Linked DNA regions of Homo sapiens: region 1 is linked to region 2. Evidence: fine-mapped expression QTL. Tissue or cell type: whole blood. Region 2 holds a variant in brackets; the other region holds the start of a gene. All regions are shown on one strand. Distances are from middle to middle. Region 1 holds the start of EID3 (EP300 interacting inhibitor of differentiation 3). Region 2 holds the start of TXNRD1-AS1 (TXNRD1 antisense RNA 1).

What was found.
Region 1: EID3 starts here. The variant in region 2 is fine-mapped to the expression of EID3 in whole blood (TOPMed, PIP above 0.99).

Annotation. Positions count from the first base shown.
Region 1 is chr12:104,297,346-104,306,771 of GRCh38, reverse strand. EID3 (EP300 interacting inhibitor of differentiation 3) reads right to left here and starts at 3,033. Exons shown (of 1, transcript NM_001008394.3): 1 at 1,567-3,033. The coding sequence starts at 2,837. The coding sequence ends at 1,836. The region is part of intron 4 of TXNRD1 (thioredoxin reductase 1); the gene reads right to left. RefSeq lists enhancers at 2,596-2,655, 2,686-2,925, 2,233-3,105, 4,897-5,066, 5,605-5,774 and a silencer at 2,966-3,195.
Region 2 is chr12:104,278,691-104,286,690 of GRCh38, reverse strand. All of the region lies in intron 3 of TXNRD1 (thioredoxin reductase 1), which reads right to left. TXNRD1-AS1 (TXNRD1 antisense RNA 1) reads left to right here and starts at 5,848. Exons shown (of 2, transcript XR_007063431.1): 1 at 5,848-6,407. RefSeq lists an enhancer at 1-458 and a silencer at 4,326-4,620. The variant T/G (reference allele first, on the strand shown) is at 3,523.

The DNA of each region.
Region 1 (9,426 bases), 19 kb before region 2:
ATGACTGCTACTATAAATCAAAGGATACTAGACACTAGCAAGGGTCAGCGCTCTTTCATATGTGAAAGGAGTAACTAATTTAGAAAATAATTTGCCAAGTTTCATGAGAAAGTTCTATTTTTGCTAAAACCTCTACTCTATTATTGGTGAAGAACCTCATCTCCATACATGAAAAATCCTTCCTCTCAGTCTTGGTGTCATTTGTTGAGTCTTTGGATTTCCCTTTCCTGTACCACTAGACTTACTAGGAAAGTTTGCCACTGCTATGCATAACAGATACCTAAACATTTGCCAAAGTATTGTTTAATGGCAAAATTCCACGACTACCAAAAATTAAGCTCCTATAGGGATCAAGGGGAAGAAAGCTTATGGGTATGCTTACTGCACCTTCTCAAGTTACTTTCTTAATGACCCAAACTTTTGGCAATAATCTCCAAATAAGGTTGTAATTTATGCAACGGAAAGAAAAAAGCCTTTATGGCTTTACACTAAGTGAAGAACATCCAGATAAACTAACATGTTTTAGTTTCAGCAAGGTCAGTTTCCTGGCATTTAAAGCCCTATTAAGAAATGCAAAATTTGGCTCACACTTGTAATCCCAGCATTTCCGGAGGCCGAGGCGGGTGGATCACTTGGGGCCAGGTGTTCGAGACCAGCCTGGCTACCATGGCGAAACTCTGTTCCTACTAAAAATACAAGTATTTGCTGGGTGTGATGGCACACACCTGTAATCCCGGCTACTTGGGAGGCTGAGGCACAAGAATCGCCTGAACCCCGCAGGCAGAGGTTGCAGTGGGCCGAGATTGCACCACTGCACCCCAGCCTGGGCAAGAGTGATACTCTGTCTCGAGGGGGAAAAAAAAAGATAGAAATGCAAAATTAAAGTGGGACAAATATTCAAAGTTGTTACATGATGAAAAAGCGTAGATTGTGAAGGACATTCTATGTACTAGCAAAGACCACAAAGGGACACTAGGGGCCAGAGAAGAAATTCAGTAGATAAAAACTACAACTGGATAGCAAGATCTTGTGTTCAATGTATAATAGTTTGACAAAAACATCTTCTCAGGATATTAATAGATGAAGTTATTCAATTGTTGCCCAGCTTATCAAATATAATAGTTTTTCCATAAATCTAATGGTCCTCTCGTGCCTAACTTCTAACAATTCCATGCATTTGACCTTGCTATTCTCTTGCCTAGAATGCCTTTTCCTTCTTCGTGTTTCTACTCACCTTTCACCCTTAGCTGATACCTCAACTACTACAGCAGAGACACTACTTTTGCTGAGTACAATAACAGAAATTGTTTAGAATATGGATACTCACTCATAAATCCTAAGTCTTCCTTGCAATGACTTTTTTAGTCTTAATGTTGCATATTCACTGCCTTACAGACAGGTTTTTTTTTTTAACTTTTGTTTTTTACCCACTCTTTGCCCAACCTGGTTAGGAACCCTTTCTGGGATTCTCTTGGTTCCCTATGACAGAGAAAGCAACGCATCACAGAGCATCATCACTGATTTTCGTAAATTATTATGTTTTGCAAATTATCAAATATCCCTTAATTTGGTATCCAAAACTTGTTTTTATTAATAGTCTTAAAGGGCATTCAATAAAACGTTCCCATAAATATGCCAGTGAATTTGTTTTAATAACAGAAGATCATGACCTTATAAATTACTAAGAAAAATATGCTGCACAGTAAAACAATGTCTGATGTTCTTGAAAATACTTTTTCACTTTACAAGAGATACAATATGTGCTTCAGTTTACATTTTACTCTCCATCTAACTTCAGAAAAAAAACACAAAAAGGATGCTATACTAAGAAATCTTTAGTATGAGGAGTATGTAATCATAGCCTCAGAAATTTCAAAAGCTGCCACAATGTTTTTCCACTCCTGTAAAGTCAAAGATATAACTCCCTGTTTCCTGCCATGGCAACTGGAATCATTTCCCTCACCCATTTGGTTAACATTCATCGGCTCTAATATTGGCAGCCTGTCTTCATCAAGCCTTATTCTTGCAAAACCATCTCTTACAATAAAAGAAACATAAAATATATTCTCCACAGTACGAGAAAAAGAGTTTGGATCAATCACAAACTCAAAATAGGACACAGGAGTATCAGGATACTTTCGAAAGTAGGTTTGCAACAATCCCAAAATCCTTTCTACGTTTTTTTCTGTCGCTTCTGGATAACTACTCAGGTCCAACTTCTGCAACTTTGTAGGCATGTTGCCATTTTCTTCCATCTTGCGAACTTTTTTCTGGTGTTCAAGTCGGGGCTTTGGTGCAGAACGTTCTAGCTTGAATGAACCAAAAACAAAATGGAATGTCTCAGCTTTTACCATCCAGGATGTTGCTTCCTTTTCTATTGCCTTCCAGAAGGAAAGAGCTATGCTATCATCACAATCACTCAACTTGTCAGGATCGCCTTCCATCCAATTCAGACCCACGAACAGAAACAGAAAGTCACAAAATGCTAACTGATTAAAGAAGTTCATATCTGAGTTTAACTGCTTTGCCTTTTCTTTACCCAAATCAGAAGCCATAACAAGAAACCGGGCGTCGAGGGCTGCTTCTCTGGTTCGGCTCACGCCATCAAAGAGGACGTTGGCTTCCTCCAGAGCCTCGGTTAAGGAGTTGTTCGCCGAGCTCACGATGTCCTCCCGGTTCTGCCGCACGCAGTACATGAGCTGCCGGTACTGCCTGCGGATGCTGCGGCACTTCTCCTCGTCAGCGGTGAGCTCCAGGAGCTTTGGGTCTACGTCGGCCTCCCCAGAGCTGAGGTCGTCGGAGCAGCCCGCGGCCCTCACTGACACATCCATCTTCATCAGCGCTCCCTCCGCCGCCGCCTACTTCGCCGCGTACTCGCTACCGGGGATGATCACGAGCTGCTCCTCTCCTTTCTCTTCGTCTCCCTTCCGGGAAGCTTTTTCAACCAACATGCCGGCCACGGGTATCTCTGAGGTAACGGCCCTCCCAGCGTGTGGAAAGTGGCGGCAGTTAGAGCCGAGGACGCCCGCCCATGCGCACTAGCGGCCCGGCCCGGCGCGACCCGCCCCCAGCACGCTCCGCGGGAAGACAGCCCCGCCCCGGCCCGGCCCAGCCACAAGCCGAGGCGCTCGCTCATAGACCAGCGCGGCGCTCCCAACACGCGCAATGATGGGCCCTGACCTCACACGCGACTAATGCCCGCTCAGGGGACAGCTATTCTTTTTCAAAGCGTTTACCGACTGGATCACCTCACTTTAAAAAAAAACACTTTTGGACAACTTTACACAAAACTATTGAGGAGACTAAAGGTCCTGCGCTTTAAAACGCTCGCTGCCATCATATACTGCAGTGAGGTCGACCTGGTTTTGGTTTTTTGTGAACTAAATCTGGCTGGACTGTAAACCGTCGGTAAGGCCAAGGACCGTGAAAAGCAGAAACTCCATTAAGCAGGCTAAACTCTCAGTTCTTTTGCAAGGTGGTGTTTGGACTCATTATACAAATGTAAATCGGGTTAATTACTTTCACATGTCCTCTTAAAAACCAAGCCCCCTCCAATACCCATCCTGAGTATCTGTGGGATCGGGGGAGCCTCCAATATCCGTGCTAACCCCTGCAGGAAACTGGGTGCTGGGCACGGGCATTACTCAGGTGAACTTTGGTTCTCCACTACCCAGGAGTGGAAGAATAGAATGGGTAGAGATCTCTGCAAAAGAGCTATTTACTTGGAAGCTTGCCAACAGCTAAAGGCCACCGACACTGAATGGGTAGTAACTCTGAACCCTAAAAGGTGGGCAAAGCTATGAAAATTTCAGATACAGTCTAAGGATATGAAAGCTTAATCTGTAAACTGGGTGAGTAATCTGCGTGGGAAAATTTACCCATTGGATTTAATGGGGTCACTGGAAACTCAAGTGCAGTTAAAGACGTGACTCCTTATCTGTCTCACCAGCAGCAAATAGCAAAGTATACATAACAATGGGAATGGCCGGGCGCGGTGGCTCACGCCTGCAATCCCAGCACTTTGGGAGGCCGAGGCGGGCGGATCACGAGGTCAGGAGATCGAGACCATCTTGGCTAACCCGGTGAAACCCCGTCTCTACTAAAACTACAAAAAATTAGCCGGGCGCGGTGGCAGGCGCCTATAGTCCCAGCTACTCGGTAGGCTGAGGCAGAAGAATGGCGTGAACCCAGGAGGCGGAGTTTGCAGTGAGCCGAGATCGGGCCACTGCACTCCAGCCTGGGCTATAGAGCGAGACTCCGTCTCAAAAAAAAAAAAAAAAAAAAAGGGAATGAATACATCTGGTTTTTAAAGAGAACATGCACACAAACAACCCATGAGCATCAACAGCTTTTCAAACCTGCAACAGGTACACCTTAAAAAAAAAAAGACACCCACAATTGCACCTGTCCAATTGCCAGTTTCATAGCACCAGGAAGTAAATTAGCCCTACCTTCCTTTATGCATATAGACTTGTTCTATTTCTTTAGCATTAGCAGAAAGTTTTTTGTAAATGTATAAACAGCAAAATCTAGTAGTATTAAGTTACTCCAAAATCCTTATATTACCATTTGCTCCCAATTATTTTATTAACTAGGGGTAATTCAGGGAGATACGTGCATTTTTCAAAACACCATGCATTACGGTTAGTTGTACATATATATGATCCTACCCTATTAGATTGTTGGCTTCTCAAAAACAAAAGCTGCGTTTTAGATCTTCCAAACATAGCTGTTTTTACACGGAGATGCACTTATGTACTGAATGTATAACTTAAAATAGATTTAAAACTATCCCAGCATCTACTGCAAGTTATTTGGCAGCAAAGATTTAAGTTCACAGATTCGTGGAATTAATCCTACACACTGAAAGGAAAAGTTGACTGCTCTTCAGAAAAAGTTCTTATCCCTCTTCTAAAATAAAGGAAAAATGAAAGAAAGGTAAGTTGAGACCCAGGATCATTCAAGGATCGTATCTGTCCCTAGTCTGGCCAATTACAAACTAGTATTTGAACTTGTTTTAAATCTTAGGTGAAAATACAGTTAAGAATTCCAAGACCCAAATCCAAAAAAGTCTGCTTTTACAGTGAACGATATTCTTAGGAGCTTCTCACATCCACTTTAAATTCAACAAAAGCAGCCGGGCACGGTGGCTCACGCCTGTAATCCCAGCACTTTGGGAGGCTGAGGCGGGCGGATCACGAGGTCAGGAGATCAAGACCGTCCTGGCTAACACGGTGAAACCCCGTCTCTACTAAAAATACAAAAAATTAGCCGGGCGTGGTTGCAGGCGCCTGTAGTCCCAGCTACTCTGGAGGCTGAGGCAGGAGACTAGCCTGAACCCAGGAGACGGAGCTTGCAGTGAGCCAAGATCGCGCCACTGCACTCCAGCCTGGGCGACAGAGCGAGACTCCATCTCAAAAAAAAAATTCAACAAAAGCTACTTACAAAAGAACTCTAACAGATAAGCCAACCCTTCCCACCCTATGGTGCCTATTTTCTTCTGGCTCAGAGGAAGGAAAATAGGCTGACACCAATTTGCTACATAAAGACCCTTTCATCTAAGAATTTCAAAATGCCTTAGAAAACTATATTCTCCCAACCTGCTTATAAAGTATTACTAATACCATTTACAGGGATTTCTCAGGAGATAACAGCCCACACAACTTGCTCAGAGCAACAGAGCATATCGAGGCAAACATTAAGTTGTGATTTACAGTGCTGAATGCATTCTATGCTAGATCTCCAAGAACTTTATTAACATGTAACTTAGATCATCCTAAGAAAGGCAGACTTGCATTATGTTCCACCTTTAAAAATCTGCCTTTAGGCCAGGTGCGGTGGCTGACACCTGTAATCCCAGCACTTTGGGAGGCCGAGGTGGGTGGCTCACCTGAGGTCAGGAGTTTGAGACCAGCCTGATCAATATGGAGAAACCACGTCTCTACTAAAAATAGAAAATTAGCTGGGCGTGGTGGCACATGCCTGTAATCCCTGCTACTTCAACCTGGGAGGCAGAGGTTGCGGGTGAGACAAGATTGCACCATTGCACTCCAGCCTGGGCAACAAGAGCGAAACCCCGCCTCAAAAACAAAACAAAACAAAACAAATCTGCCTTTAGACATTGCTACAAAGTAAAACAATCTCAAGTTCAATAACTCTCCCCAATCATATAAAGAATGGGATTTCCATGCCGGTTAATCTTTAAGTCATTAAACAGTGATTTCCTAACCTAAGGTCCAAGTGCTACTAATAATTATTTAAATGAAGCTTAAAAAGAAGAAACTGCACTACTGATAAATTTGTCTGTGACCAGGAATAGAAAGCAAGAAGCGCACTGGTACTTCAAAGAAACCAGTGGCGTCTACCTTATTCCCGCAGTATAGACTAGTTCAGGCAACCATGAGACTGAGTTGCCTCAGAGATAATTTAGCTCCCCTCTTTCCCCTTTTTCCTCTTTCTTCGCTCAAGAGTTGCTACCCAGGGTTCAATACAGACCTCCATTTCCTTTCCTCTTTTCTTCACCCTTTTCTCCTATATTTTCAGTTCCTTTTCTAGGAGTTTAGGTTAATTCCAAGCATTCTTGAGCTCTTTCCCACAACCCATACTGCTCAACACAAACGTGATAGGGTGGATGACAAAGGTCACATGTCTCCCTGTAACCAAATAAAGGAAGAAGTCACGAGTCCACTATTTTTCTCCAGTGAGGTTTTGCTGTTAACACTTACCTATAACAAATGGATTTTTAAGAGACTTTTTGGAGCCAAAGCCAGGAATCAGTCAGGTTTGAGTCCCACACTCTAACATATACACTTATCCTAATAGCTACCTCCCTAAACTTTTCTGTTCCTTCTTTCATAGCAGCTTTTCTCCCTTCATACCACCATGGCTTCTGTTTAATATTGAGTTGTGAAGAAATGTGGTAAAATTCCTAGTTTGATTTGCCAGAATTAGCAGGACATTAGGTATAGTTTCTCTTTCATCTTAACTTTTTTTTTTTTTTTTTTGAGACGGAGTCTTGTTCTTGTCACCCAGGCTGGAGTGCAATGGCACGATCTCGGCTCACTGCAACCTACACCCCCCGGACTCAAGTGATTCTCCTGCCTCAGCCTCCCGAGTAGCTGGGATTACAGGCACGAGTCACCACGCCTGGCTAATTTTTGTATTCTTAGTAGAGACAGGGTTTCAGCATGTTGACCAGGCTGGTCTCGAACTCCTGACCTCGTGATCCGCCCGCCTCAGCCTCCCAAAATGCTGGGATTACATGCGTGAGCCACTGTGCCTGGCAGTTTCTCTTTCATCGTAATTTTCTTTAAAGTTATGTTTGTGTGTATATATTTTGTGTTTTGTTATTATTAAAGGTGAACTTTGCTATGATAAGACAGATATCTGTATTTTTTTTTTTAATGAAAATTAGTTTCTGAAAAGACCACAGACTGTGGGAGGGGACGATCTGGGTTCCAATCTTGACCTATTACCTATTAGTATTATCTTAGCCAGCTTGCTTAACCTCTCAGCCTCCAGTGTCTTTATTTATAAGACGGGAATACTACTGCAGTTGACCCTTGAAGGAAACAGCTTTGAATTGCACAGATCCACTTATACCAAAAGCAATAAAAAATACAGGTCTGCCTGCTCCTTAAAGAGGAAAAAGCTTGTGAGAAATAAAGAAATAAATACTGTATTTGTGAGATGTGATGTTTCACATCCGGTGAATACAGAGAGCTGACTTTCCATATATGCTGGTTCCACAGGGTGGACTTTGGGACTTGAGTATGTATGAATTTGGGTATACACAAGGGTCCTGGAACCAATCCCCTGAAGATACCGAGGGACAACTGTATTTATACCATATAATTACTACAGTGAATGAAAATTATGTAATATATCTGACAGTGTTTTCAACTACTGAGTAGGTACTTAATAAATCAAACAATCCCAAAGATAGCAAATGTAAAAAAAAAAACTGTATACAAACCAGTAGTTTCACTTCTGAATGTTGCTTTAGGAACAGAAAAAAATTTAATTTTTTTTATTTTTTATTTTTATTTTAGATAGAGTCTCGCTTGGTTGCCCAAGCTAGAGTGCAATGGTGTGATCTCAGCTCACTACAACCTCCGCCTCCCGGGTTCAAGTGATTCTCCTGACTCAGCCTCCCGAGTAGCTGGGATTACACGTGTGTGCCACCGCGCCCAGCTAAGTTTTGTATTTTTAGTAGAGATGGGGTTTCTCCATGTTGGCCAGGCTAGTCTCAAACTCCTCATCTCGTGATCCACCTGCCTCAGCCTCCCAAAGTGCTGGGATTACAGGTGTGAGCCACTGCGCCCGGCCCCAGAAAAATATTTTTAAAGGTTAAATCAGTAAGGAGGAACACAGGAATATATTCCACTATAACAAATACCAGTGAAAAGAAATTTGCCATATAACAAAATTTTAAAAACCTACGAAGGCTTCAACTATTCAAAGTGTGTACAGTAACACTTTGAAGGGTAATTCTCTGTACCAGATATTCTGAAGCAGATCCACAAATAGTCTGAGTTTATATGCAAAATTATTTATGTGCATTTTTCTCAGGAATAGCTCCTTAGATTTCAGCAGATTCTTAAGTCTAGTATCTAAAAGAGGCTTTGAATAACTGCTTTATTCAAATAAGATGGCATTATTATTGGAGAAGTAAAAGAGTCTCACTAAATAATCTGGACTCACTCATTTGAAATACTTTGGAGTAGATAAAATCTCCACCCTTGCTCTGTGGTCAAATCATATACTTAATGACACTTTAAAAACCCAGTGCTGGCTGACTTGCCAAGCCTCAAGAATATAAATAAGGGCGTGAGATGAAAAGAACAACCTTTCAGGTTACGAGAGCCTCCACAACACCTCAAAAGGCAGCAATGACTAGGAGTGTTATTTTGATAGACAGGGAGGGTAAGAAGGACTGGGTATGTGGCTACTAAAGGATGCAGCATTCTAGGAACTCCACTCAGGGATCAAATGAAAAATATCTGCATTATTAGTTTCCACTTACTTTCTTCGAAAATTGTAACAGAAGTCTATCAGATGTCTCACTCTGCCATACAGAGTGGTTGTCATCATTAAAAACAAAATCAGGCCGGGCATGGTAGCTTACACCTGTAATCTCAGCACTTTTGGAGGCTGACGCAGGCGGATCACCTGAGGTCAGGAGTTCGAGACCAGCCTGACCAACATAGAGAAATCTTGTCTCTACTAAAAATACAAAATTAGCCAGACGTGGTGGCGCATGCCTGCAATCCCAGCTACTCGGGAGACTGAGGCAGGAGAATTGCTTGAACTCAGGAGGCGGAGATTGCAGTGAACTGAGATCACACAGTGCACTCCAGCCTGGGCAACAGAGCAAGACTCCATTTCAAAAACTAAATAAATAAATAAATAAATATAAATTTATTT
Region 2 (8,000 bases):
TGAGGGTCTTTAGAATCCTGGTGCCTGGCTCCCACCCCTAGACATTCTGATGTCATTGGTGTGGAGTGTGACCTGGGCCTCTGCGTTTAAAAAAAAAAAAAAAACTCCAAAGGTGATTGAGTTGGCAGCAAAGTTTGGGACCCACTGCCTTAAGGTCATGGATTAGTCAGTTTGGCAGTTCCCTAAAGGAAGTTATTAGGCTTTTGAAAAGAAATGTCTAGTTCATCCTGACTAATCCTGAAAAGAAATGACAAATTCTTAGGAACACACCTAACTTCCCCTGAGAGCACCTCTTCCTTATTAGATTCTAAGTTTGGTATTTATTGTTTTTTTTAAGAAAAACTCAGAGTGTCTTTTAACTCCAGCTGCACCCAGCCACCTGCAGCTACTAAGGTGAGCCATGCTCTCTCATGCTTCCCTGCTCTTACTCATGTTCTTATTCAGCACTGTGCACTAGCAGGCTATGAATATTTGCTGAATAAATACATAATAACTGAATGAAGGAAGGAAGGAAGGAATGTCTTTCCCACTTCTTTGGATAATGCCAGATTGAAGCACTCTCAGCTGAGAGCGTTGCGGGCTCCTAACAGCCAGCAGAAGCCACACTCCCTCTAAACAAACAGGCAACCACTGCCAGGTCCTGCCAGGCCCTTCCAAGGTGAAACTCAGAGGCTTGATTTAGCTTCTTCACCCTCTAAATGGGCACACACACACACTACACACACTAACTTGACACTTCCCCTGTAAGGTGATTATTGACATGAGTGTTTGATTATTGACATGAGTGTTTCACCTGATTCTGGAGTCCCTAGAACAGAGAATGGATCTAGTACGTGGGTGTTGAGGAAACAATGTGATTTAAGGAGGAAAGAAGGAAAAACATGAAAAGACTGGGTCTAAGGGAGAACAAAAAACATTTACTCCTGGCTCCCAAGCCAAGTTCTGTATTAATAATTTTATATGCCTTTATCTCATTTAGTCTACCGAATGACCCATGAACCAGGGTCATAAACTCCTCATTCTTAGAAATATATTGAAAATACACCTTATTTCAAAAGCATGACTTAGGACACAGAAGGATCATTTAACTTGAAATAATGTACTAAAAGCAAGTAATAAGGATTGATTTGAAGAGGCTTGCCATTAAAAGCATCTTGTATAGACAGCTCAGAGTGATTATAATTAATATTTTCTAACGGCATTCCAAAACAGGCTAGATAAGGCATTTTAACTTCACATTGTTCCTAAGTGAGCAAATTATAGCAAAGATGCCCAGAGTAGCACCATGTAGTTATTTTTCTTTAAATTAAAATCACCATTTTAAAACCATCTTCTTTTCTTTCAAATCCTTCTTGCTGCTGTTAAGAGCCCAGATGCCTTACCCTTGTCGTGAATTCTAGAGGAAAAACTCCTTAGTTCTATTTAGTTGCTGGTTAATGGAAGAAGAACCTCATCTTCTTCCACCATTTCTCATCATGCAGCAATTTATTTATTTATTTGTTTGTTTGTTTGTTTGTTTGACAGTCTCTTGCTCTGTTGCTCTGGCTGGAGTGCAGTGGCGCATCTCAGCTCACTGCAACCTCCACCTCCCTGCTTCCAGCGATTCTCATGCCTCAGCCTCCCAAGTAGCTGGGACTACAGGCATGCACCACCACACCTGGCTAATTTTTTGTATTTTTAGTAGAAATGGGGTTTCAACACGTTGGCCAGGATGGTCAAACTCCTAGCCTCAAGGGATCCGTCTGCTTCAGCCTCCCAAAGTGCTGGGATTACAGGTGTGAGCCACTGTGCCTGGCCGTAGCAAATCATAAACATAAAATGTTTTAATCATACATTTCGCATCTCTTGACTGGGCTCATTCTTCCTTTTCAGAATTATCTTCCCTCCCTAAGGGCCTAGTCCTTCAAAGCTCATCTGAAATGTCACCTCCTCTGGGAGTCTTCCTGGATTTTCACCCAGTGTTAATTGCTCCTTCCCTCTTCTTTGTCCCCCAAATACCTAATAATAATTACAAATCTTCTACAAGAGCTTTGGATAGGCAAACCCTTGTTTATTTTGTCTTTACAGAATCTGGTATATAGTAGGTACTCAGAAAATGCTGGAAATAGACCTCTCTATGTTCCTGAACTGTCATCTAAGCTATAACAAATTTATGCAGGTGTTTGATAAAGGCTCCTATTGTATTAAACTACTGTTCTACCTATAATAAGCCTTTCTCTCATACACACACACACACCATACTGAGCTAGAATGATCTTTCTAACACCTAAATCTTCTTTACTCAAACCTTCAGTAGCTCTCTAGGGCCCTCAATATGAAGTCCAAGCTTCTCAGTCGCGTTGACATGGCAAGGCCCACCCTTGCTGAACCTAGCTGTCCACATATTCTGTACTCCACTTAAAGCAGGAAACATTGCTGAAGGAAACACAGAAATTAAAAGTGATTTCACTTTAAAGTTAAGACCACAAACTTCAAATGTATCCTCAAGGTTGCCCAGCAATCCTTTGCATCCCTGGAATATTTGTTTTCTCAGGATCCAAAATGACCATTTCACACGTATCCCTCTTTCCTCAAACTTCTAATGCCCCTACACCTTGCATTAGCTCATGACCTACTTTCTACTTTAAGAAAATAGCATCAATCAGACAGAACTCCCTTAACCAGCAAGCTGCCATATTCTCTGCCTTCACTCTTATTATTTCCTGATGAGAAAAAAAGTGGTAGGTAGTGAAGTCAGGAGTAGCCAGAGGTCAGACCCATTATCAGGCCACAGTCAGGATTTTGGATTTCATTTTATTTTTATTTATTTATTTATTTTGAGAGAGAGAGTTTTGTTCTTGTTGCCCTGGCTGGAGGGCAATGGCACTATCTCGGCTCACCGCAGCCTCCGCCTCTCAGGTTCCAGTGATTCTCCTGCCTCAGCCTCCTGAGTAGATGGGATTATAGGCATGTGCCACCACGCCTGGCTAATTTTGTATTTTTAGTATAGACGGGGTTTCTCCATGTTGGTCAGGCTGGCCTCCAACTCCCAACTACAGGTGATCCGCCTGCCTCGGCCTCCCAAAGTGCTGGGATTACAGGTGTGAGCCACTGCACCCAGCCTGGATTTCATTTTAAATGTGTTAAGAAGCCAGAGTGTGAGGCCGGGTGCAATGGCTCACGGCTGAAATCCCAACACTTTGGGAGGCGGAGGCAGGTGGATTACGAGGTCAGGAGTGCGAGGCCAGCCTGGCCAACATGGTGAAACCCCGTCTCTACTAAAAATACAAAAATTAGCTGGGCATGGTGGTGGGCGCCTGTAATCTCAGCTACTCAGGAGGTTGAGGCAGGAGAATCGCTTGAACCCAGGAGACGGAAGTTGCGGTGAGCCGAGATCATGCCATTGTACTCCAGCCTGGACAACAAGAGCAAGACTCCGTCTCAAAAAAACAAAAACAAAAACAAAAAAGACAGTGTGAAGAGAAGAGAAGGAAATGATTGTTGTACATTCAAAGAATTGCTGTTATGTGGAGAATAGTGAAG[T/G]CCAACTTCACTTGTGTATGGATTCTCATCTTTTATTTCCTTCTTAATATTAATGAACATCACTCTTGAAGTTAGCCTCCCTCTCTGGCATCATCAATTGCTTGTTCTCTACCTGATCATTTACATCATCATACAAATGCATTGTTGTTTTACCATTTTAAAAAAGCCTCCCGACCTGGTGCAGTAACTTACACTTGTAATCCCAGCATGTTGGGAGGCTGAGGCAGGAGGATTGCTTCAGGCCAGCAGTTCAAGACTAGTGTGTACAACATAGCAAGACCTTGTCTCTACAAAAAAAATTATAAAAGTCAGCCAGGTGTGGTGGTACCTGCCTGTAGTCCTAGCTACTTGGAAAGCTGAGGTGGGAGGATCACTTGAGCCCAGGAGTTTGAGGCTGCAGTAAGCCATGATCATGCCACTGCTCTTCAGCCTGGATGACAGAGCAAAACTGTTCCCAAAAAGAAAGAAAAGGCTCTCATGATCCCATGTGCCCCAACCCTTGCAGTTACCACCACCCCATTTCATTGCTCTCCTTCACACACACACACAAAGCTTTTCTGAAAGAGTTCTTTGTACCTTGAAGAAGAATAAAGTAGGGTAGGGAAGTCAGGAAAGATCTCAGAATGTGATGCTTGAGCAGAGCCCACAGTGCTATGAGGGAACAGGCCATGAGAGTACCTAGGGAAGAAATCTTTCTAAGCAGAGGAAAGAGGAGGTACTTGTGAAAGCTGATCATAAAATTGGGTCATTCTTGTCATTCCCAATTAAATCAGAGCCAAGGGGCTAGGGGGAAAAGCACTCAGGGTACAAAACATTGCTCCAAGAATGTAATTCTCTGCAAGCCTGACTGCTGAAACTGCCTGTTGTAACCTGAGACCAGCTTTATCTATAAATGCTAAGAGAACTTGCTGAAACTCTAGGACTAATTTTGCCCACTGCCATCACTCACCAGAGCTTGCTAGCTCCCCAAACCCTAACTAGTCCCAAAGAACTTTCTTGAAGAGCAATATGTAACAGCTCTCCTGTTTCTAAAACCTCTAACCTTCTCTTTGTTCTTCAGACATACTGAAGACCACCCTGTCTGCATATATGCCCCAAATTGCTATTCTTTCTTTCCAAATAAAAAATTTTAATTTAGAGACTTGTCTCACATTTTTATTCTGGCTTCAACATACTAAAGCCCTAAGCTAGGAGTCTGCTTGACTTATCCAAGAATCCACAAAGTAACCAGTATGTCTAAAGCCTAATGAGTGAGAAAAAAAGTGGTAGGAAGTGAGGTCAGAGGAATAGCCAGGGGTCACATCCATCATCAGGCCATAGTCAGGATTTTGGATTTCATTTTAAATGTGGTAAGATGCCAGAGTGTGAAGAGAAGAGAAGGAAATGATTGTTGTATGATAAAATAATTGCTCAGTTGTGTGGAAAATAGGCTAAGGAGGGCAGGGACTTAAAAGTGGAGATATGGCCGGGCTCGGTGGCTCATGTCTGTAATCCCAGCACTTCAGGAGGCTGAGGCGGGCGGATCACGAGGTCAGGAGATTGAGATGAGCCTGGCTAACACAGTGAAACCCCATCTCTACTAAAAATACAAAAAATTAACCGGGCGTGGTAGCAGGCGCCTGTAGTCCCAGCTACTGGGGAGGCTGAGGCAGGAGAATGGCGTGAACCCGGGAGGCGGAGTTTGCAGTGAGCCGAGATCCCACCACTGCACTCCAGCCCGGGCGACACAGTGAGACTCCATCTCAAAAAGAAAAAAAAAAAAAAAAAAAGTGGAGATATGGAGATATACAGACCTGCTAGGAAGTTACTGTCCTGGTCCAAGCTAGAGATGATAAAGGCTGATTAGTGAGGTTAAAAAATACATTTGAAGGTAAAGCTAATTGCACAGATATATGTTGTACAGTTGTACAGATGGATGGAATAAGAGATGTAAGAGAAAGAGAATCAATGATAACGCTAGATTTCTGGCTTTAGCAATGGGGTAAATAATAGCACTCTTCAATGAAAAGCAGGAACACCCAGAGAGGAGGAAGAAAGATGGGAGGTGGGGGAAAACAATAGTTTGGGACAAATCCATAGTATGGGTTAACAGATCTATTATTATCCAAATGGAGAGGTTGACTAAGCAGTTGGATATGTAAGTATGGAGTTCAAGGGAGAAGTCAAGGCTAGAAATAAACATTTGGTGTCAAACATAAAAGATATTTAATACCATGTGTATTAGTCACAGCTCTTCAGAGAAACAGAACCAATAGGATACATGTATATATAGAGAGATTTTTTTCTTTTCTTTTTTTTAAAGAATTGACTCACACAGTTGTGAGGGCTGATAAGTCTGAAAACTCCAAGGCTGGCTGATAGGCTGGAAATTCAAGCAGGCATTGATGTGGCAATCTTGAGACTAACGGTGGTCTGGGTGCAGAATTGCTTCCTCTTTGGGAAACCTCCATCTTTTCTCTAAGGTCTTCAACTAATTGGATGAAGCCCATCCACATTATGGAGGGTCACTAGCTTTACTCAAAGCCTACTGATTTCATTGTAAGTCACATCTAAAAAATACCTTCACAGCAACATCTATGCTTTTATCTGCCAAACAACTGGGCACCGTATGCTAGCCAAGTTGACACATAAAATTAACTGTCACTCCATGGGACTAGATGAAATTACCCAGGAGTTAATGTATTTAGAGAAATAAAGATGGCCCAGGACAGAGCCCTGGCACGCTCAAACTGCAAAAGGGGAAAAGAACCCAGCAATGGAGCCTAAGAAGGAGCTGGCAGGAGGTAGGAGGAAAACCAAGACTGTGTGGTGTCTCAGAAGCCAATGAAGAAGTGCTCCAAAAAGGAAGATCAACTATTTCAAGCACTGCCAAGAAATCCTATAAGGTAAGGGCTGAGTCATGGAGGTCACTTATGAAAATGGTGGTAGGTAAGAAATCCTAATTAGAAGAAGTTCAGCAAGAAACAGAAAATAAGGAAATGGAGGGAGTAAGTATAGGCAACTCTTAAAGGGGTTTTGCTATAAAAACAAAACAAAACAAAACAACAATAGGAAAGGAGCTAAAGAGGGATGTAGGATAGAGGAATTTTTTTTTTTTTTTTTTTTTGAGACAGAGTCTCACTCTGTCACCCAGGCTGGAGTGCAGAGGCACGATCTCAGCTCATTGCAACCTCTGCCTCCTGGGTTCAAGCAATTCTCCTGCCTCAGCCTCTCGAGTAGCTGGGACTACAGGTGCATGCCACCACACCCAGCTAATTTTTGTATTTTCAGTAGAGAGAGGGTTTCACCATGTTGGCCAGGCTGGTCTTCAACTCCTGACTTCGTGATCCACCCTCCTCGGCCTCCCAAAGTGCTGGGATTACAGGGGTGAGCCACCGTGCCTGGCCAGACTTTTTGGTTTTTTTGGTTTGTCTAAGAAGGAAATTATTACAGCATGTTTTTATGCTAAAGGAATAATCCAGTAGAGGGAACTTTGGCAATTTCCAAAGAAGGAGCAAAAAGAGATAATTGCAGAACCAAAGTCTGTTGAATATACCCTTATTATGCAGTGTAGACTTTGAAGTCAAATCCAGGTTCTATTACTAACTGCAAAGCCAAGTTACTAAGCCTCTCTGCTTCTTCATCTTCTTTCTACAAGGCCCTTTGTGGTCCTTCCACCCCTTCATCTCACCCAAACTTCTCCTCAATCCCCATGATTCAGTCATTAGCTTGCTTTCAGTCCCTGTAATTACTGTCCTCCCTCCCACCACAGGGCTTTGCTAACTTCCAAGCATTGAGCAAATCTAGTTTGAACAGGTTTTCCTTGGGAAAACCAACAGAGAAGTCAAATCCCCCTATGAAATGTTCTCATGTTACCATCTATTCTTTCTGCCTAGTACTTACTACAATTGCAATCATACTTTTATGAGTATTTGATCAATGTCCACCTCCCTCACTCTAGAATAGCACAGTCCAAGAGGACTTTCTGTGGTGATGAAAATATTCTAAATCTACACTGTCCAACCCAATAGCCACTCACCACATGTGACTATTAAGTACATAAAAGATGGCTAGTACAGGTGTGGATGTGAAGTTCTAATGTTATTTAAGTTTAATTAATATAGATGTACATAGCCACATGTGAGCAGGGACCAGGATTAGTTATGCTCACCATCATGTTCCCAGCACTTAATATAGTATGCACACATAGTAATTGATCAATAAATAATTGTTGAGAGATTAAATCTGTAAAAATGCAGATATTACTTAGTTAATTTGTATATTCCATCTTTTTCACAGAGAAAAGGAGAAAAAAAAGCTTTTACAAGGTAAATGTTAGGGGGTCCTCAGTTTTATAAAGGTAATTTGGCCTTTAAGAATTTGATCAGAGGCTGGGTGCGGTGGCTCACGCCTGTAATCCCAACACTTTGGGAGGCCGAGGCGGGCGGATCACGAGGTCAGGAGATCAAGACCAGCCTGGCCAACGTGGTGAAACCCTG